Homo sapiens: one gene and its partners. The protein of the gene in region 3 interacts with the protein of the main gene of each other region in a biochemical or structural test. Each region holds a gene or a part of one and is shown on either strand. Other genes may lie near its edges.

Region 1 (7,024 bases), on a different chromosome or scaffold from region 3:
CTACCTCACCTGTGCCAAGGGCTTGTCTGTGGTCAGTGACCTGGATAGATCTGAATGGGGCTTCTTTTTCGAGGAGTCTTATGGCAGGTCTCTCAGTAAAGACTCCATTCTTGATGATCACACATTTTGGATTTTCCAAATCTGTCAGAGAATGGGCTTGAGGCGGGGTTTGTGGGCACTAGTTTCACTGGTTTCATTTACCAAAAAGGGGAGCAGAAGTCAAGTATGGTGGCTCATCCCTGTAATCCCAGAGGCAAGAGAATTGCTTGAGCCCAGGAGTTCGAGACCAGCCTGAGCAACATAAGGAGACCCCGTCTCCACAAAAATGAAAAATAACATTTTAGTCAGACGTGGTGGCATGCATCTGTGGTCCCAGCTGCTTGGGAGGGTGAGATGGGAGGGTTGTTTGAGCCCTGGAGTTAAAGTTGCAATGAGCTGTGATTGCACCACTGCACTCTAGCCTGGGTGACAGAACGAGACCCTGTCTCAAAAAAAAAAAAAAAGAAAGAAAGAAAGGAAAAAAAAAACTCATGCCTGTAATCCCAGCACTTTGGGGACCGGGGTGGGCAGATCACGAGGTCAGGAGATCAAGACTATCCTGGCCAACATGGTGAAACCCCGTTTCTACTAAAAATACAAAAATTAGCCAGGTGTGGTGGCACGTGCCTGTAATCCCAGTTACTCGGGAGGCTGAGGCAGGAGAATCGCTTGAACCAGGGAGTCAGAGGTTGCAGTGAGCTGAGATCGTGCCACTGTACTCCAGCCTGGGCGACAGAGTGAGACTCTGTCTCAAACCAAAAAAAAGGGGTGGGGGGCGGGGGCAGGAGAACAGTGAGAGGTAGGGAGAGGAAAGGGGATTCTCGCTACACCCAAACCAGATACCATCTAGAGGCTAGAATCTTTGGGAGGCTCAAATTCCCTAGAAAGCAGGAGAAGCTTCTGTAGCCCTCCCGCTTTCCCAGTAGATTAAGCCCAGGGCGGCTCCAGATGTGTGACATGCTCTGTGCCCAACCAGAGCCCATCATAGGCAGAGGAATAACACCCACACCAGAAGGGCCCTCGGAGGTCACCACGTCCAAGAACCCTCTTTACAGATGAGGAAACTGAGGCCCAGAGAGGGGAGAGCCACCTAGCGAGCTGGTGGCGGCTAGACCAGGAGAGCTGTCATTCCAAGCAAGCAAAGGCAACGAGACGAGCCCAGAGCTGTGCTCCCATCTCTTTGTTAGGGGGCCTGGGATGCCCTCTCAGTGTCATTTTGTCCAGGATGATGCTCCCTCTCTTAAGCGATTAATGCGCCCTTGCTAACCTTTTGCTATCGCTGCCTCTTCAAACCAGAGGAGTTGAGAGTTCCGGGCCGGCAGAGGAAGGCGCCTGAAAGGCCCCTGGCCAATGAGATTAGCGCCCACGTCCAGCCTGGACCCTGCGGAGAGGCCTCTGGGGTCTCTGGGCCGTGCCTCGGGGAGAAAGAGCCAGAAGCTCCCGTCCCGCTGACCGCGAGCCTTCCTCAGCACCGTCCCGTTTGCCCAGCGCCTCCTCCAACAGGAGGCCCTCAGGAGCCCTCCCTGGAGTGGGGACAAAAAGGCGGGGACTGGGCCGAGAAGGGTCCGGCCTTTCCGAAGCCCGCCACCACTGCGTATCTCCACACAGAGCCTGAAAGTGGTAAGGTGGTCCAGGAAGGCTTCCTCCGAGAGCCAGGCCCCCCAGGTCTGAGCCACCAGCTCATGTCCGGCATGCCTGGGGCTCCCCTCCTGCCTGAGGGCCCCAGAGAGGCCACACGCCAACCTTCGGGGACAGGACCTGAGGACACAGAGGGCGGCCGCCACGCCCCTGAGCTGCTCAAGCACCAGCTTCTAGGAGACCTGCACCAGGAGGGGCCGCCGCTGAAGGGGGCAGGGGGCAAAGAGAGGCCGGGGAGCAAGGAGGAGGTGGATGAAGACCGCGACGTCGATGAGTCCTCCCCCCAAGACTCCCCTCCCTCCAAGGCCTCCCCAGCCCAAGATGGGCGGCCTCCCCAGACAGCCGCCAGAGAAGCCACCAGCATCCCAGGCTTCCCAGCGGAGGGTGCCATCCCCCTCCCTGTGGATTTCCTCTCCAAAGTTTCCACAGAGATCCCAGCCTCAGAGCCCGACGGGCCCAGTGTAGGGCGGGCCAAAGGGCAGGATGCCCCCCTGGAGTTCACGTTTCACGTGGAAATCACACCCAACGTGCAGAAGGAGCAGGCGCACTCGGAGGAGCATTTGGGAAGGGCTGCATTTCCAGGGGCCCCTGGAGAGGGGCCAGAGGCCCGGGGCCCCTCTTTGGGAGAGGACACAAAAGAGGCTGACCTTCCAGAGCCCTCTGAAAAGCAGCCTGCTGCTGCTCCGCGGGGGAAGCCCGTCAGCCGGGTCCCTCAACTCAAAGGTCTGTGTCTTGAGCTTCTTCGCTCCTTCCCTGGGGACCTCCCAGGCCTCCCAGGCTGCGGGCACTGCCACTGAGCTTCCAGGCCTCCCGACTCCTGCTGCTTCTGACGTTCCTAGGACGCCACTAAATCGACACCTGGGTGCAGCTGCTCCACTCCCTCGGCCTCCTCCCGTGCTCAGGCTGTGGCCGCACGCGCCCCTCACGCTTGCCCGCCACTCTGCATGTCACCAGCACCCCCGCTCCGTGCTACCCACCTTGTTTGACTCTCTGGCCACTTGATTTGTCCACAACGGCCCATCAGCCCACAGGAGGTTTGGTGGGTGCCTTCCACCGACAGGATGACGGGTGCCCTCATGGTGTCTAGAACTCTCCAACCCTCCCATGTAGGCATAAGCAGCCCCACTTTGCAGATGAGGAAACGGAGGCTCAGAGAAGTACAGTAACTTGCCGAAGGCCAATGAGTAGTAAGTGACAGAGCCAGGTTTGGGATCCAGGTAGGTTGTCTCTGAAAGACACGCCTGTCCTGCATCCCACAACGCCTCCCAGGAGGTGCTGGAGTGTGGACGCCTAACACAGAGATGTGCAGGGCACACACAGCAGGTGACACACACAGCATCCAGAGGTGGCCCAGAGCTCATGCTGTGCCTTTGGCCCAGTGCCCTGCCCCCACCCACTCTGCCTTGTGGCAGGAAGACAAGGAGCAGACACAAGATCTCCCTGGTCCACATGCCACCACCTCCCTCTGCAGAGGACAAGGGGATCCTCATGCTGGCATTGGAGGGGGTTGAGCAGGGCCCACCTTGAGCCCTCAGGAGCACGACCACAGCAGCCCTGCAGGGAGGGATTGGTGGGAGGAGAGTCCCAAGTATCAGGGAGAGGAGAGTTGGTGTCCCACAGGAGACCTCAGAGCCACAAGGCGAGCTTGTTCATAAATTTGGGACCCTTAGCATTTCACAGTTATTTGCAGAGCCCAGAAATGGATGTTACTGAAGCTCACAGTTGCAAGCATCTGTTAAATTTTTATTAGATTTTACTTTTAGGGAAAACTTTGAAATGCTATAAAGAAGCCTGTGTTTAAAAGTTAAGACAGAGGCTGGGGGCGATGGCTCACGCCTGTAATCTCAGCACTTTGGGAGGCCAAGGCAGGTGGATCATTTGAGGTTAGGAGTTCGAGACCAGCCTGGCCAACATGGTGAGACCCTGTCTCTACTAAAATTACAAAAAATTAGCTGGGCGTGGTGGCGGGCACCTGTAGTCCCAGCTACTGGGGAGGCTGAAGCAGGATAAGTGCTTGAACCCAGGAGGCAGAGGTTACAGTGAGCCAAGATCACACCACTGTACCCTAAGCCTGGGCGACAGAGTGAGACTCTGTCTCAAAAAATAAAATAAAATAAAGTTAAGAGAGAAAAAAATATATCCTATATCCTTTGTTAAATTCCAAAACAGTAGGGGACAAATAACTGACTTGACAGGTTACTACAATATTTCCTGAAATGATGTTTTCTTGAATACTGGCCTACTAGAGGTTCATAGGTGTGTTTGGATTAAAAAAGAGTTCCATGGCCCAGTGACTGGGGGAAAAAAATAAAAGACTAAAGTAAGTTAAACAGGCTTTTCTGCTGCAGGACTTGTCAGAGCCTTTAATGTACTAATGGCCATTGTGACCCTCTGAGAAGGTCACAGAGTGGGTTTCCCAAACTTACTTGATTCTACCTGCTAACATTTCCTGGAGGAAGTTTGGGAAATGCCGATTTAGCAGATTCTTTTGTTGTGCCGTGGATGGTGCTGGTTGATGTGGGCAAAACAAAGAACACGTGAGTCAGATCCGCCTGGGGCTCTTACTAAAGTGCAGGTTCCCAGGTGCCACTTTAGGCTTACAGACCCAGTTGTGGGGTAAGCCTGGGAGTCTTTTAGCAGGTGATTCTGCCACATAGTATAGTTGGAAAACCTCTGGGCATACTCATTGCTGGTCCCTCTAGAAATCCAGGTGACAATAGCCAATGAGAAGCTCCAAGAGACCCAGTTGTCCATGGGGTAGAGGGAATGTGATATTGAAACCAAAGAAGAAAATCTATGATCAGTTTTCAGCAGTGACTGTCAAGAGAAGGAGAAGGGTGAGTTAGCGCTGATGCTGGCTGACAGGTCAGCGGGTTGGTTTCACCAAGGAGTGTGATGAAGGCTGATGTTGTCTGTGGGAATGTATGATGGTAACTGGTTTGTAGCTAATTTGGGGAAGCAGTGAGAATTCGTGCCCTTTGAAGACCAGTAAGTGGCAAGAAACCCACCAGGCCTGGCTCAGGGCTGGGCTGGGCTTGGCTCGTCTCAGAGCAGCTGGGGCTGGTGGCCAAAGCCACCATTAGTGAGGGGCAGGCCCTGGGGGTACAACCAGCAACTAGGGGACAAAGACAACCCTGCCAGCCTCTCCTATTCTGGAGGCGTGTGACCAGAAATGGAGATGGGTTGGTCAGCATAAGATGGCCAGGAAGGTGGAAATCAGGACTGCTGGCAATCTAGCCACATGGGCAGGGGAGCCGGGTGGTTCCAGGCAGTTTCCAAGGCCAAGAGGGTGAGCAGGCACCTCACAGGGAATCAGGGCCAAGCCTGGCTGCAGTGTGGAGACAATGCACCCACCCCCATCCTTGGATCTTGCAGGAGGCTGGGTCCTCACTGAGCTACCAACATCCATGGCCCTGAGGCTTTTAAAACACCCATCCATGGAGTGGGGCTGGTCCCAGTGGGGTGAGGCTGACCCTGGCAGAAACAGGGCAGGAGCCTGTGGGTTAGGGAGACTGCACCTTCCTTAGATAGCCTCCATGCCATCATGTCCCCGTGACAGTTTCTGCTGCGTCCCCTCTGCATGGTCCCACCCTCGGCCAGCCTGCTGCCCCCTCTTGCCAGGTTGCGCTAATCAGTGACCCCAGTGTGCTGTGTTGATACTAACAATGCGAGGCCTAGCAGATTCAAGGGAAAAGAGAACCAACTGGGTTTCCACCAGACCCAACTAAACAAACATGGACCTATCCCAGAGAAATCCAGCTTCACCACAGCTGGCTTTCTGTGAACAGTGAAAATGGAGTGTGACAAGCATTCTTATTTTATATTTTATCAGCTCGCATGGTCAGTAAAAGCAAAGACGGGACTGGAAGCGATGACAAAAAAGCCAAGGTAAGCTGACGATGCCACGGAGCTCTGCAGCTGGTCAAGTTTACAGAGAAGCTGTGCTTTATGTCTGATTCATTCTCATATATAATGTGGGGAGTATTTGTCACTAAAGTACAGCTGTCATTTAAAGTGCTTTGTATTTTGGGGCAGGCTTTTAAAAAGTCCAGCATTTATTAGTTTTGATACTTACCCCAGGGAAGAGCAGTTGGCAGGTTCATGAAGTCATGCTCCTAATTCCAGCTTTCTTAGTGTACTTTCAGTGAGACCCTGACAGTAAATGAAGGTGTGTTTGAAAACCAAACCCAGGACAGTAAATGAAGGTGTGTTTGAAAACCAGCCCTAGGACAGTAAATGAAGCCATCTTCTCACTGCATAAACTGCACCCAGATCTTCGCCCATCCTTCTCAGTATTTCACTTCACCCATTGTTTACTGTCTCAATGACTGGGGAAATGTCTGGGGAAATGCTCCCGTAATTGCACAGTGGCGTTTTTCCTGGAAAATCCCACCATGGCTCTAGATAAGACCTATTTTTCTTAAAGGTATCTAAAATTTCCAGCATAAATTCTGTCTGAAACACCTGAATTTTAATCAGTACTGGAGCCCGGAGGGCATCTCCAGTTGCCACATAGCTCTGAGCATTCAGTGGTGTGTTGAGGGCTGCTCCCGGAAGTGCCTGCAGAGTCAGGGCTCCCCAGCCTCATCTAGTGAGGCAGTGGAAGGGCCTGTGGGGATTTGGAGAGCTGGCCTGGGTCTCTGAAGTGATAGTGACAGCTGCTTGTCAATCACGGTGCACATTTAGTGCTGGGGGCAGGGGGCAGGGAATACCAGCCTCATGCATGCATGCATTCATTTGTTCCTTCCTTCATTCATTCATTCAGTACACATGGGTACAACATCCCTGCCCTGGAGTTGCCCAGAGTCTAGGGAGGGGAAAGATCTATTACCCTGGGCCTCGGCCAGCTGGGGAGTGCTGCTGGTGGAGAGGGGCCGTGTGCAGCGAGGGAAGGAGGAGTCGTCAATACCCCCACCCCAGCTTTGCTTTCTTGTCATCAGCCCCAGGGCCCCAGCCTGTGTCCCTCCTCTCCCATTGCTACTTCATCTCCTGGGTCCTCCTTACCAAGCCTGACCACACAGAGGGCCTTGGCCGCTTCCATGGGGAATTGGAAAGCAATAAGATAGCATCCCCTAGAAGCCCAGTGAAGTCTGGGACAGGACCCTTCTCTGAGCTCTGACTTGCTCTTGGAAACACTTCGAGGCTTAGCCTCCCCACTTTGTTTCCCGAGAGTGTGACCTGTTCCCCTCCAAACACCCCCTTCTCCTCCAGGGCCATGCCCACCCGTCAAAATCCCCCACGGGCAGGACGAACTGTGGGTGTCAGTCACCATCTATCCTGCATCCTGGTTCCAGGGCCCCCCCCAGCCCCGCCTCCATAGGGACAGGCGTGCAGACACCCGTCCCTG
Region 2 (6,825 bases), on a different chromosome or scaffold from region 3:
TCAGTTGAATATTAATTATTGCTATTCACTGAATTTTTAACGAGAGGTTCTGATGAAAATCTGGTTTTCATAAGGGAGACTTCAACTACTTTATATTCTCCAATGACATTTTAGTAAGAATAAAAAAGAGAAAGAAATGCCTACTTATAGGTATATTTCATATTGGAAGGAAGAGCCTTTAGACAAAATTAGTAGAAAAAGCACACATTGGTGAGATTGTTTACCTGATCTAACACGATCTAACAATTTACCAGACAAGAACGTATGTATCATTAAAACCGAAGTTTTCCAAAATACAAAAATTTGGGTAGAAAAAATGTACATTATTTTTTGAAGAGTTAATGCTACTTACAGATAGATGTTTGATGTATGGCATATTTTTCTACCATAGTCATAGAGCTTTCAGATCCTGAATACCAATAAAGACCACCCCAACCCCACTATTTGTTAAAATGCTGACAACCATTTCTACTATTTATTTATTTGAGACGGAGTCTCGCTGTGTCGCCCAGGTTGGAGTGCAGTGGCGCCATCTCGGCTCACTGCAACCTCCGCCTCCCAGGTTCAACAGATTCTCCGCCTCAGCCTCTCGAGTAGGTGGGACTACAGGAGCCAACACACCCAGCTAATTTTTGGTATTTTTAGTAGAGACGGGGTTTCACCGTGTTAGCTAGGATGGTCTCGATCTCCTCACCTCATGATCCGCCCCACTCGGCCTCACGAAGTGCTGGCATTACAGGCATGAGCCACCGCGCACGCCCAGCCTCTACTATTATCTTAGCTTAAAAACAAAAAACGCCAAAGAAAAAAGTGCAGGAATTCCTGGGTTACATATTTAACTAATAAAAATACAGTGCCCCAAATACGAAATAAACATTCGGATAAGATATTTTAAAAAGGATTTTCAGGAAATGCACCCGGAGCTATAGAAGGTATTATGTACACTACACATACAAAAAAAAGTCCCTGAAAGCTCCTTCCTGACAATTAAAATACATAACAACTAAGTTCTAAATTTCCACGATATTACATTTTAAATCAGTTCTTAAAACTTAATGGCAGTAGCATTCTCTCAAAGCAAGATTAAACGTCTTAGGAAGGCAACATACACATCATGGTAAATTTGGAAGATTCTCAGAAACTCTTTTACACATCACGGTAAATTTGGAAGATTCCTAGAAATTATTTTACAAAGACGAGGATTCTTAACTATTACGCAACTACTGATGGCCTTAAAGATCCATGAACTTTCTTAATCTGCAGAGGGGAATCTGTATATTTAAAACGTATTTTACAAGGATGTTCCTAACATTTTTGAAACAAAGTTTTTACGGTGGATTCCTCAAGTAAGGAAAAAAAAATTAATACATGATAAAACTGCTTCTGTGTTTGTACTTTAAGACACTTAAACCTGTAGGTTTGACTTTTTAACAAGCTTTTATAAATAAAGCTTTACCTTCATAATTTTGATTCAAGAGACCAAAGCTATATGGCTATTTAAAGATCAGAACGGCTGTTACTCACAATGATAACGCCAGTGGTCATGTTTCTTCAAATAGGACAAAAAGTGTGCTCAAAGAAAGTCAGTTTTTGTTCTGATTTTAAATGTATATCTTAAATGCATGCATTGTGACCGTCTCCATAATTTAAAACCTCTAAGAAATTTAAACTTTCACATTATAATTTAGGGATTAGTCAATCCCTTAGTACCAGTTAAATAATAGCCAGGAAAGCATTAGAAAACCTGAAGGTACATGTAAAGAAATGCTTTACATCACTATTTAAAATAGGTGTTGAATTTTAAGAGAAACATTTCTTTCACTAAAATTTCTGATGCCTAAGGTCCATCAGGAGTAATCTCTTTTACTCCATGATATTCACAGTAGTTTTGCTCTTGGCCTCACCAGTTTTAAGACTCTCCATTAAAGAAAGCCAATTTTATACTACCTAGGGGCACAAAAATAGTTCCCAGCTCCTCCTCTCTTTTTCCTCCTAGGTTCGGTTAAACGAGCGAACATAGAAAACACGTACACACACTCCCTTTCGGCCCTGGTCCCTAGGGCATTGATGAAAAGCAAATTATTTCTTTACATACGCTCTGCTGTCCACCCAGAGATTTAAAAAAAAAAAAATAAGGGAAAATACCAGAATCAGTCTGCACCCACACCTAAGCCCCGCCCCACCGGGAAAAAGCTGGGGGTAGCGGGATTGTGAGGGTGGCGGAAAGGACGGAAAAGGCCGAGACTTCCAGCTCCTAGGTTCTCCACACCATTCTTTCCTTCAAGCTGCACCGCAGCCAGGGACCCTGATTCTATTTTCAGCCGCGCCTCCCGATCCTCCTCCCCGCCACCATCACCAATACACGGTCCTCAATCGCTTGAATACTGGGTGGGGAGACCAGAGTGGGCCCTCTCCCCGCCCAACCCAAGGACTGTGGGTGGGAGAGGTCTCCCTGCGCACACGGCTGACTCGACGCGCGCCCCGAGGACCTCTGAACTGACCCAAGTAGGGTGAAGATAATTCGGAGGGAGGGGTCTAAGAGGGAGCCGTTATTCCTTTTTCCTCTGCCTTAGGAAAGCGCGCGAGAGGGAGGGGCCGGAACAACGAACGCTGGTTACCTAACGGTCCGGCCCAGCCAGTCAGGTTCCCAAAGCCCACACCGCGCGGGCCGCCGAGGTGGCAGCACAGCCACAATCGCCCCAAGGGCTAAGGAGCACGTCAGGAGCACCCGAGGTGATGGGAAACGGGGGGTGGGGACTGTGCTGAGCGACGTCGCCATGTTAGCGCCTTCTTTCTCCGTATCCCTACAGTCTCCAGCCCTGCTGACCTCTGCCCATCGTTACTCACCTTTCCAGGTCACTAGTTCATGATCCTTTCGGTCACCCGCGAGCCCTGAGCACAGCCGTGTTTACAAAGCACCCCTGGAGGAAAAGGCTGAACGGCACTTTAAAGGCCACGGGCTCCCACAGGCTTCCGTCCTCTCTCGCGAGATCGGACTGACAACCCCCGCCCGCTCGCCCCGCTCCCGGCATCCCCACCTTCCTTCTGGCGCCCCTCCCCTTCACCCACACGCCCCTTCTTGCCTTCCTTCTGAGGGAGCGCCTCCGAGTCAGGTGATTCCGTCAGGCTTAAGGAGAAGAAGGCGGGTCTTCGGCAGGGCGGGTAGAGGGGACGGGCATCAAAGAGCACTCGGGCGCTCATGATTGGACAAGGAGCCCGAAGGGCGGGAAGCAGTTCTGGAGGGGGCGGGACCAGAGGGCCCAAGGAGCGTTACTTCTGTAAACCCGGAGCTGTGGAAGACTGTGATTGGCTGTCGGCTGGAGGAGGGCGCGGGTGCAGGCGGCGGTGAAGGGCTAGGCAGGGCTTTGGCGGTGTGAGGGGAGGAAAGGTGGTGAGCTCCGGAAAGGCTGCTAGAGGGAAAGCAGGATGGGTCCTCCGAGCCCAGCCCCAGGAGCCGGGTGTCTCCGTTTCCGTCACTTCCCAGCACTAGGTAGGGAGGTGGGTAAAAGTAGGCTGCGTTCCTCAGCCCACCCCTTGGCTCCCCGGGAGCCTGAGGCGGGGAGCTTCGGGTTAGGTGAGGTTTGGGGGAGGCGGAGTTTGCTGGTAATTGCCCATCCCTCCCCTCCAAAAAACCCCACACAACTTAAAGATTTTAATATTAACTGTAAGGATGTTGGTTATTCAATAAATAGGCACAAGTTGAAAAGTATGATCAGAGGCCTCTGTGAGAATTTACATTATTCAATAAAAGATTTTCAGTGTCTTATTTTTTCCATTTATTAAATACTGATTTCTAGTCTGGAACAAAATTATGAACTAGTTTATATATTAACATAAAATACACTCTCAAAATTGTTGAAAGGTTTTGGGGGATAGTATGAGAGTTAATGAGCCTGAAGTTCAAGAATGATATCTGGCATAAAAGTGAAATTGTAATGGCATTGACATTTTAACAGGTAGGTCTCTGGACCGCATACATGTGTATAAGCCAACTCAGTCCTCTTTTAAAACTAATTTTAGTTAAGAAACATTAAGCCAAATTATTAACACTTTCCTACTTAAAATGAAAGTACCGTCCCCATATAGTAACAGTAATGTAGTAGTGCCATTGTAGTGTAACACTAATTATGTCAGCAAAACCTCACAGTTCAGATTACTCATGATGGAAATGGTGGACAAAATGTTTGATTGACATCACAATTGTTAGGTCTAGAACGCATTGATTAAATAGATGCTTCTCTCTCCATCTCCCAAAACAACTAATGTGAGAAAAAGAACTGCAAATGTTACGACATTTCAAAAGAAGTTTGGGTCAATTAGAATAGATTTTTTTAAAAAAATTGTTTTTCCATTTGAAATTTTTTCCAGTGTTGATTCAATTGGGCAGTAGCTTTGGTTTTAAATTTCTCATTGCTACTTCTCCAGTCTGTTGTCAAGCAGTTAGTTATCTACATGATGCATTCGAGAAACACATTATTTTAAAGAAAGTCTTTCAGTTCTTTTTAGACAAGAGAAGAACTGTTTAGTGATATGAACAGTACTCTGATCTGTTTTGATAATTCAGTTTTAGCTAATTTTCTAAAGAGAGGGTATACCTAAAGTGAGAAAAAAAAATAAGATAGGCGCAGGAAACAGGTGGAAACTATGCCGATCTGTTATATATGCATTTTGGCAGCCCGGCATTTAACAAAGGGTCTCACTTTATCCACATATTTCTAGTTCCACAGCAGTTTGTTTACTATAGTTTTTCTACAAGTGGGGAAAACATTCAGCATTGTCAAAATGAATGTAGTTACCATATTCAGGTCTGATTCCATGAACTTGTCTCACTACTTATTCATATCCTCATAAAATGCCACCCTTTTCCATCTTTGTTCTCACTTTTGCATTCCTCAATATCCCCAAGAGTCCTAAAATTCTTTACAGTCTTCTCTTTACAAACGCAGGAAACTTCTTGTAGACCTCTTCTTTGCCTGTCTTGTTCCATGATGCATCTACCCAACTTAGTTCTAAGAGAATTAGTGAGGGTCTAGTGAATCTCCTTTAAGAACCCAGCATAACTGCTAAATAAAACTAATATTCCTTAGATACAAAATGAGGCTATTTGAAGAAAATGCATTTCTGTCATGAAAATGTTAATAAATATCACAAGAAACAATGATGGTCTCTAAGTGCCCTCAAAATCTTACAAATGCCACACAATGTGGTATTTCCACCTTAGTATGATAGGGCTGCTAATCCATAATCTGTTAAAACTGCTCACAAAAATTCTAAAACGTGTGTGTGTGTGTGTGTGTATGTATGTATGTATATATATGTGTATATATGTGTGTGTGTGTGTGTGTGTGTGTATATATATATCTGTTCTCACGCTGCTAATAAAGATATACCCGAGACTGGGTAATTTATAAAGGAAAGAGGTTTAATTGATTCACAGTTCAGCATGGCTGGGGAGGCTTCAGGAAACTCACAATCATGGCGGAAGGGGAAGCAAACATGTCCTTCTTCACATGAATGAGTGCCCAGCAAAAGGAGAAGCCCATTATAAAACCATCAGATCTCTGAGAACTAACTCACTATCATGAGAACAGGATGGGGAAACCACCCCAATGATTCAATTATCTCCACCTGGTCCCTCCCATGACATGTGGGGATTATGGGAACTACACTTCAAGATGAGATTTGGGGTGGGGACACAGCCAAACCATATCTCTCTCCATCTTCCCTTTCAACTTCCTCTCCTTCTCTCTCTCACTAATAATTGATTTTCAGAACATAGTTTCTGTTTGTCTGCAGCTAACCAAAACATAGAAGACTACAGGGCACCCCTTATGTCTACTTGGTACAACTAATCCTAGGCTTAGGGAAAGAGCCTCTACATTTTCATGATATTCTCAGGATGCAGCCCAGTACAGTGGATTAGCTGGGATTTTATCAGTGGGATCAAGGTAGGGGTGTGTGTGGTGTGTGTGTGTGTGTGTGAGATGTGAAAGGGGTGGGAGACGCAGGACATGATTACCCCACTGATATCTGAGAAATGAAATAGGATAATGTGGCCCTAGACGTTGTACAGACATTTTGGTAGCTTCTATCTCATGGCAGATCTTTTCCTCTCTCTGCCAGCTCAGGGTCTTCCTGCACATTGCTGAAATGGCCTATGTTAAAGTTACCTCTCAGCACTTGTCCTCATCATGGACATTTTAAGTGCAGGGATGTCTACCCTCCAACCCAAATCTTGGGTTTCCCAAAAGAATTTATAATTAATGGGGTGTGGCATTATGGGGAAAAAGGGCTATGTTTATCTTCACATCATACCAGTTAGCTTATACTACCTTCAACAAAACCAGCCCAGAGAGAGGGAGAATGGAATTTAAGGGCCTTGTTTTCATTCTTGATGCTAATGCCACCTCTCTCTCTCATCTGACTCACCAGAAAGAGGGATTGCCATCATTATATTCTTTTTATACAATATTATTAATAAAAATAGGATCACTCCTACCTTTCATAGCTTCCCATAACTAGTCTATTTGTCAACCTGAGGCCCACGTAACACCAAAGCCATGTGATCTGTATCCTAGAAATCAAGGGAGGTCTGTCAGCATATGGATCCTCCTGGGTCCTTAGACTACCATCCTGCTCGTTTCAGTTACCTTCTTACCTTGGATACAGCCTCATAGGTCAACTATGGCCAATGAGGTCAAGCATCAACCTAATGCTCTCCTTACTCATAAAGCATCTATATTAATTGAGCATGAACATTCCAGGCACTGTTTCTGGCTCTGAGGTGACAACTATAAATAAGACAAAGTTTTTTCAGGAGACTCT
Region 3 (7,343 bases):
CCGCGCAGCAGCTGGTAAACCAGGAATTGAACGTGCTCGTCGCTCAGCGCCTGGCACTTGACGATGTTGTTCAGGTCGGCGCCCATCAGGGTGGTCACCAAGTACCTGGGGCGGGGTCAGGGGGTCAGGACAGGGCCCCACCGCCCCACCGCGAACGCGCTCCCCGCTGCCTCGCCCGCCCCGCCGCTCACACTTCGCTGAAGTCCTCGATGGACGTGGCCGGCGTGAAGACGTCCAGAAGCCCGATGACCTAGGTGGCGGGGGGCGTCAGGGCCGGGCGACGAACCCCCGGCTGTCGTTCAGCTCCCCCCGGGCCACGCCCCCAGTGCCAGGCCGCGCCCCCTGTGTCCCCGCCCCCATCGCCAGGGCTCGCCCGCCTATTGGCTGCGCCGCGGCCCCGCCCCCGCACGCGCCCTCCCCCCACGGCCCTCCCCCGGCTCACGTTCTCGTGCTTCAGGTGCTTGAGCAGCCGCAGCTCCCGGTACGTTCTGCGCGCGTGGATCAGCGACTGGAAGGGGCGCGACAGCTTCTTCACCGCCACCTTCTGGCGCAGCCGGGCGTCGTAGGCCGAACTGGAAGGCGGGCGAGTGAGGCGGCGCCGGGAGGGGTCCGAGGGCGGCCGCACGCGCGTGGACCCGGGCGGCGTCCCTCTCGCCGCTTCTCCGTGGGGATGGGGCCGTGGGGCTTTTCTGCCCCGGCCCCGCCGCCCCAGCTCGGCCTCCCACCCTCGGGCCTACCCACTCCGCGCTTGCTGGGAAGGAGCCCCTGGGGCTGGACCACCATGCGTGTGTTCACCCCACAAGGTCCTGGACCTTCTCTGTCCCCTGGCCCCACTGATTCCCACGCTCAACCAGGGGCCCCCATTCAAAGCAAGGCTGGGGGAGAGGTGCCCCATCCAGCGTGGAAAAACACAGCAGGAAAACAGTCACTGGCATTCACCTGCAGCAGACGGGCCTCCCTCTGCCCCATAGACCCCATGGGCCCAGGAGGCTCACAGAGGGGGATTCTAGAGCCACCTCAAAGCCCCTGGACCCCTGGTGCCTCCGAATGTTCAAAATACGGAGGGAAAGTTGGTCAGAGGTGTTTATTGCATCATTATTTGGAACAAAACCGGGACAGAAGGTGATGTACAGCTGAGGGCGTCAGCTGGACCCACAGAACAGCCCTTCGCCCAGCCCCACTTCCCAGAGGTCCAGACCCTCTACCCTGCACCAGCTTCCTGAGCCCACCCTCCCTTTGCAGGTGACCCTCATCCCACCCTCCCATGTCCCACTGCCCTCAGCCCTGCTAAAGGAAAGGCCTTTGCACAGCCTGTTCCCTCTGGCTGATACTTGCTTCTTCTCTCCCTCCCACTTCTGTCTCTTGGGATCCTGTCTCAGAGCAAGTGGAGGCTGAGGCCACCCCCCATGCCCACACAAGGGGAGCAGGAGCGGCTCCTGCTGGGTCTGGGATGCTCATGGGCGCAGGTCGAGGTGCCTGGGGCAGCCATGCTCCCAGCCTATGACCAGGGAAAGGTGCTCCTGAGGTGGTGAGGGGAGTGGCCCTGCACGTGGGGCAGCAAGTTCTTTTGGCCAATTGCATCTGTGCGGTCAGGTGACAGGGAATTGGCACCTGGCCCGCAGCCTTGGCAGTGGAACTAAGAAAATGGGCCAGGGGTGCAAGGGGGGAGACCAGGCCTCACTCAGAGAACCGGACACCTCTCAGCAACTCCCAGACGGCGAGTCCAGCCATGACCCACCCTAGTCCCCTATGGCCACTCCCACACCGTCCCAGACCCTCTTCCTGCCCTTCAGGTCTCAAAGAGGAAGACAGATCTGTGCTGGCATGATGGCTAGAATGACCCACCTACAGCTTCTGATGGAAGGCTAGGGACCACACCAGAAGACAGCCTGCCCTGGGACCCCCGGCCCCTGATGCCGGCTCCTGAGCTCCAAATCTGGTGGGCCTAGAGGTCCCACTTCCAACCTGCAAGTGCCTGGGGCAGAGCTCTGCCCTGGCTGCCTCTGCCTTTGCGCCCCACCAGGACCCCCCAGTGGGCAGCAGCTAAGCGGCATTGGCCATGGTGAGGACTCAGCTGCACCTCTCAAAGCCTGTACCCATGATCAGCCTCCCAGTCAACATGGAGGCTGAAACTTAGGACTCCCGGTAACTACCTCACCCTAAGCCCCTCCAGCCCTGGCTACCCGGGTCTAACAGAGACCTTGGCCCAGTTGACCCCCCTCCCCCACCCAGACTCTGTCGTCTTCCTGGGCCCCAGGCCAGGTCCTCTGGCCCCAGGGCCTAAGTGGGGTTTGTGGTCTGAGGGGGAGTCTGAGGCCATCCCAGGGGGAGAGATCTTGGCTTCCGGGAGCGGGGCTTCCCTTTTCAGACAATAGCCCCCAGCCCGGGCGGGGGAGGGTCATCCGCTAGACCCCGGGGGGCTGCCTGACCCGACTCAGTGAATCTCAGGTGGGTGCTCAGACGTTTAGGGGCCCGGACATCAGGGTGGCTCGGGGCTCGGTCGCGTGAGACCCACCCTCACGCCAGCTGTGACCTCCCAGGCCTCAGGCCTGGTGGGGAGCAGTCCGAATCGGGAGAGGCCGGAGGACCCCCCTCCCTCCCGGTAACGGCGTCTGCTTGGAAAGTTTCTTTACGCCGCCACCCCCGCCCCCCCATTCATTCCTCAGATCCGCTTGGCGCCCGGGGGCGGAGGCAGGGCGAGGCCCCTCCCCACGCCGAGAACCTCGCGCGGGCGAGGAGGGGACGCGCTCTCCGGCCCGGCCCGGCCCCCACCCAGCACCCCTTCTGCCCCGCCCCTACCAGACGGAGCCGTAGGCGCCGGAGCCCACCGGGCGCAGCCCCTGCAGCCGCTGCGGCACCTCCCACACGGTCTTGTTCAGCTCCTGCCGGTAGAAGCCGGCGCGAGGGCCCGACATGTCCGGAGCAGCCGCCGCTCCGCCCGGGCCCAGCCCCGCGCCCCGCGCCCGCGCCCGAGCCGAGCCCGAGCCGAGCGGAGCGGAGGGCGGCGGAGGCGGCGGCGGCGGCGGGCGGGGCGGGGCTCCGGGGCGGGGCCGGGAGGCCCGGGCGGATTTCCCGGGCTGGGTGGCCGGGGCGTGGGGGGGTTCCCGGAGACAAATGCGCTGCTTCCTGCGCCTCGGAGGCGGTGGCAGAGCGGAAACCAGCCCTCCCCTTCCCGGGGGGGGCGCCGAGGGCGGACACCTCCCTCCGGCTCTCACCTCTTGGGGGCCGCGCGCTTCTCCAGACTTGCGCCCGCGTCTGGGCTCGGCCCGGGCTTCCCTACCCCGGCGGCGCCCTCCCCAACGAGGGAGAACCGTCAAAAGCGAAGAAGCCAGGGGTAAACCATGGGAAGTATTTTTCAAGACAGAAATATGAATAGCACCTTCTAAAGACTCGGCACTGGATAGGAAAATAAGCCGAAAGGCGTTGGGACAGGGCCGGCCTGGCTTTCTTGCGCAGGACCTGCAGGCCTTGGTCCGCGGTGCGCCCCGGGAACCTTCCAGGCCTCCTGCCCCGGCTCGCCCTGACCTCCCCTCTGAGAGAGGCGCGACCGCTGGACTGTCAGGACCAGGGACAGCGGCGTCACCCCGGGGCCTTCCTACCCACAAGCAGCGGCCCCAAACGGATCCTTTTTGCTGCCCAGAACCTTTCCTCCTCCTTAGCGGCCACCTCTTCTAGGAAGCCCACCCTGACTATCCCAGGTCCGAGGAGCCGCCTTTGGGTGCAGGGTCCTTGAAGTCAGCCCCGCGGGCGGGCAGGCGCGGGGGGCTGCCTTGGCGGTGACGGGGGCAGCGCCCCACTCGGCGTCTCTGCCGCGCTCGGGGCCGCACAGCTACTTTTATTCCCACTTGAAAGCGACCGGGGCTCGGCGGAGCATTGCTCCCTGGAACACCGGCCACCGACCTCCGCCCTGGTAGAGCCGTGGTGGGAGGCTTCGCGGCTGGGCGACCCCCTCCAGCGAAGTGAGAAATCAGGATCCCAGTGGCCCAAAACACTCCTTTTTTAAAACACTAAAATCCGAGTTTTAATGTCAAATCTGATTTTTATATATCGGCAACCAAATTAAAACAGCCAGCACGGTGCTGGCCACCGGACCCATGCGGACCGCGGCGAAGGAACGGGTCTCAGTCCCAGCCGCTCCGGCCCCTTTTGCATGACCAAGCCCCGTGCCTCAGTTTCCCCATTGGAAGCCGGCATCCGGCTGGGGGCCTGGCGCGGGCCCGGGGATGGCCCCTCTCCTCGCTCGGGCTGGGTTGGGGCGAGGACACGGGCAGCCTCCCCGAGGGCCCCCGCCCGGGAGCGCCTTTCACTGGGCCCGGCCGAGGCGGGCCGAGGTTTTGTGCAGAGTTAATGGAGCTTCAGCTAAAGGAGGAGGAGGCCGGAGCGCAGCCCCGGAGCTGTGGGAACCGCGGCCGCGGCCGCCGGGGGAGGGGAGCGGCCTTTGTCTGCGCCGCGGCCGGGCGGGGCGGGAGTCGGGTTCCCATGGCGACCGGCCCCGCCCCTGCGCCTCCCCGTGGACTGGGCGGCTCCGTTCTCGCCCCTAGGGTGGGGGACATGGAGGTGGGGAGGTGTCAGGCTTCCCCCAGGCGTCCGCCCGCAATCCTCGCGGCCTCGCTGCAGGCCCCGGCCGCTCAGCAGGTCAGGCGGGCGTGTGGGGTGGGGGTGGGGGCGGGGGGCGGTGGAAACGGGCCCCTCTCATCACTGAGCTGACCTGCCCCGGGAACCCCCTGCCTGCCCAGGCATTAGAGGTCCCGCCCATGTGCCTACTGGGGACAGTGTGGGGTCGTGGCACTGCAAGGGAGTGATCACTGAGGAGTTTCGGGTGGCGTCAGGGCCTGGAGGCCATCTTCCAGGAGAGGCACCTTCAGAGCTCGGCGGGGGCAAGGGAAGCCCCCCTGGAGGGAGCCGCCGGTGGAGGACAGTCCCAGGCCCAGAGGGGAAGCGGCAGGGGAGCCAGGAAGGGCCGGTGGCAGGGCAGGAGTGAGAAGCCCTGGGCCAGAGGCGCCTCTCCTACCCAGCTGATTCGCTGTGGCCCCTGAATACAGCAGGCCACCCCTTCTCCGTGCTCATGCCCCCACCCCACCCCCGCTGGTCCTGGCCACCCCTCCTCACTGGAGCTGTCACTGTGACAGCTCCTCTCTGGTCCTGCTGGTCCCTCCCAGCTGGCCTCTTCCTGCAGTCAGTGAACTTCCTAAAAGGCAAATCTGGCCTTGCTCACCGGGAGACCAGGCGATGGTGGTCGCGGAGCTGATTTAGCAGGGGACTTGTCCTGCCTGTAAGAAGCAAGCAGGATGTAGCCTTGGGCTGTTAAGCTACCCGCCACCTCTCCTCCCACCACTCTGGGAGGAAAATGGGACTTGGAAAGCACCAGGAAGGACAGGCCACCCCTCGTCTGTCGCCAGCTGACCACTCCAGCCCACCGCATGCACCCCAGCAGCTATGCCCAGCTTCTACCCGGTGCCTGCCCCCACCCAGATGCTGGACTGCTGGGCCTGCAGCCTCTCCCCAGCCCCAAGTTTCATGTGTGTGGGGTCTCACTGACCCTTCCCTTCTTTCCTGACTGCCCAGTGGGACAGGGAAGAGGTGGACTGCAGGGGTCTAGTACGGAAGCCAGGCCTCCAGGTTCCCAGCTCCCTACTTGAGACCTCCCGCTCAGCACTTAAGCCTTCGGTCCACCCCCTTGCTCTGATCTCCTGACCAGCCATGTCTCTGGGTAAGGGGGGAACCCAATGTCATTTCAGGGATCCTTGGAGCAGGGGATGTCAGTTGGCCTTGTACCCCTTTCTCTTGTGGGGGAGAGATGGCCACCCGTTTTTCATCGTGGCTTGAATGGAGCTGTGTGGGCGGCAAGCCACCCAGGCACCGAGGCAAGAGAGAGGACACGAGCTGTTGCAGTATAATAAAATATAAAACAAGAATAGTTATACCAGATATAGATCTTAGATATGATTATATATGAATATCATTAATCATTAGTTTGTAGCAATTACTTTTTATTCCAATATTATAATAATCCTTGCTCAATAATCATAGCCTAGGAAAAACCAGGCCATACAGAGATAGGAGCTGAGGGGACATAGTGAGGTGTGACCAGAAGACAAGAGTGGGAGCCTTCTGTTATGCCCGGACAGGGCCACCAGAGGGTTCCTTGGTCTAGCGGTGACGCCAGCGTCTGGGAAGACGCCCGTTACCAGGCGGGCCGTGGTCCAGCCGTAGCAAAAGGTGTCAAGGAACAACACCCACTACTTAGCAGACCGGGAAAGAGGGGGGGGGGTCTCCCTTTCCCCAGGGGAGTTTAGAGAAGACTCTGCTCCTCCACCTCTTGTGGAGGGCCTGACATCAGTCAGGCTTGCCCGCAGTTATCCAGAGGCCTAAACGTCTCCCTGTGATGCTGTGCTTCAGCGGTCACACTCCTAGTCCACTTTCATGTTCCATCCTGTACACCTGGCTCTGCCTTCTAGATAGCAGTAGTAAATTAGTGACAATACTAATAGTCCCTGATATGCAGAAATAATGGCGTAAGCTGTCTTTCTCTCTGTCTCCTCTCTCTCTCTGCCTCGGCTGCCAGGCAGGGAAGGGACTCCTGTCCAGTGGACACATGACCCACGTGACCTTACCTATCATTGGAGATGACTCACATTCTTTACCCTGCCCCTTCTGCCTTGTATCCAATAAATAACAGCGCAGCCCGACATTCGGGGCCACTACCGGTCTCCATGCATTGGTAGTAGTGGTCTCCTGGGCCCAGCTGCCTTTTCTCTTATCTCTTTGTCTTCTGTCTTTATTTCTACACTCTCTCGTCGCCGCACACGGAGAGACCCACTGACCCTGTGGGGCTGGTCCCTACAGAGCTGCCCCAGTCCAAAGGGGACTCGATCAATGGAGGCCTTGCCCATCAAGAGACCCCAGCCATGACGTGCCCAGGTGGGGAGACAGGCTGGGGCTGCCTGAGAATGGATCCTCGTGAGTGGGTTAGCAGTCCAGACCAGCAGAACCTCAGGATGTGTGCCTGGATCCAGCCACATTTGAAGCTGGGCCTTCACTTTGTGTCTGGAGCACCGAATGCCCTCTGCCTGGGCTGTCTGTATTCTTGGCACACAGGGGAGGCTCTGAGCCCTGCCCGTCCTGGTTGCTGCTGTTCCTAGCGCTCAGGACAGTGCATGCGTGGTGTGCAGCGGGCATTTGGTAAGAATGTGTTGCACGAAAGAAGCCACCAGATGGCACCAGAAGCAGTCCCACCTCCCACCCCCCCCACCTCCCCTCAGCACCTCTCCCAGCCCCCTCCACCTCCCCCCAGCACCCCTCCCAGCCCCCTCCACCTCCCCCAGTACCCCTCCCAGCCCCTT

Evidence for each region. The genes of interacting proteins can lie anywhere in the genome.
Region 1: of the proteins of MAPK11 (region 3) and MAPT, one has a biochemical effect on the other in vitro, tested with the Homo sapiens proteins (2 studies listed by BioGRID).
Region 2: of the proteins of MAPK11 (region 3) and ATF2, one has a biochemical effect on the other in vitro, tested with the Homo sapiens proteins (4 studies listed by BioGRID and IntAct).

Annotation. Positions count from the first base shown.
Region 1 is NC_000017.11:45,981,531-45,988,554, forward strand, and holds part of MAPT (microtubule-associated protein tau), read left to right. Parts: intron 1-1,335; coding exon 1,336-2,400; intron 2,401-5,509; coding exon 5,510-5,565; intron 5,566-7,024. UniProt on the Homo sapiens protein: Promotes microtubule assembly and stability, and might be involved in the establishment and maintenance of neuronal polarity.
Region 2 is NC_000002.12:175,165,203-175,172,027, forward strand, and holds the start of ATF2 (cyclic AMP-dependent transcription factor ATF-2), read right to left. Parts: upstream 3,002-6,825; 5' UTR 2,848-3,001; intron 2,508-2,847; exon of another isoform or gene 2,431-2,507; intron 1-2,430. UniProt on the Homo sapiens protein: Transcriptional activator which regulates the transcription of various genes, including those involved in anti-apoptosis, cell growth, and DNA damage response.
Region 3 is NC_000022.11:50,267,378-50,274,720, forward strand, and holds the start of MAPK11 (mitogen-activated protein kinase 11), read right to left. Parts: upstream 3,004-7,343; 5' UTR 2,916-3,003; coding exon 2,800-2,915; intron 573-2,799; coding exon 443-572; intron 251-442; coding exon 192-250; intron 106-191; coding exon 1-105. UniProt on the Homo sapiens protein: Serine/threonine kinase which acts as an essential component of the MAP kinase signal transduction pathway.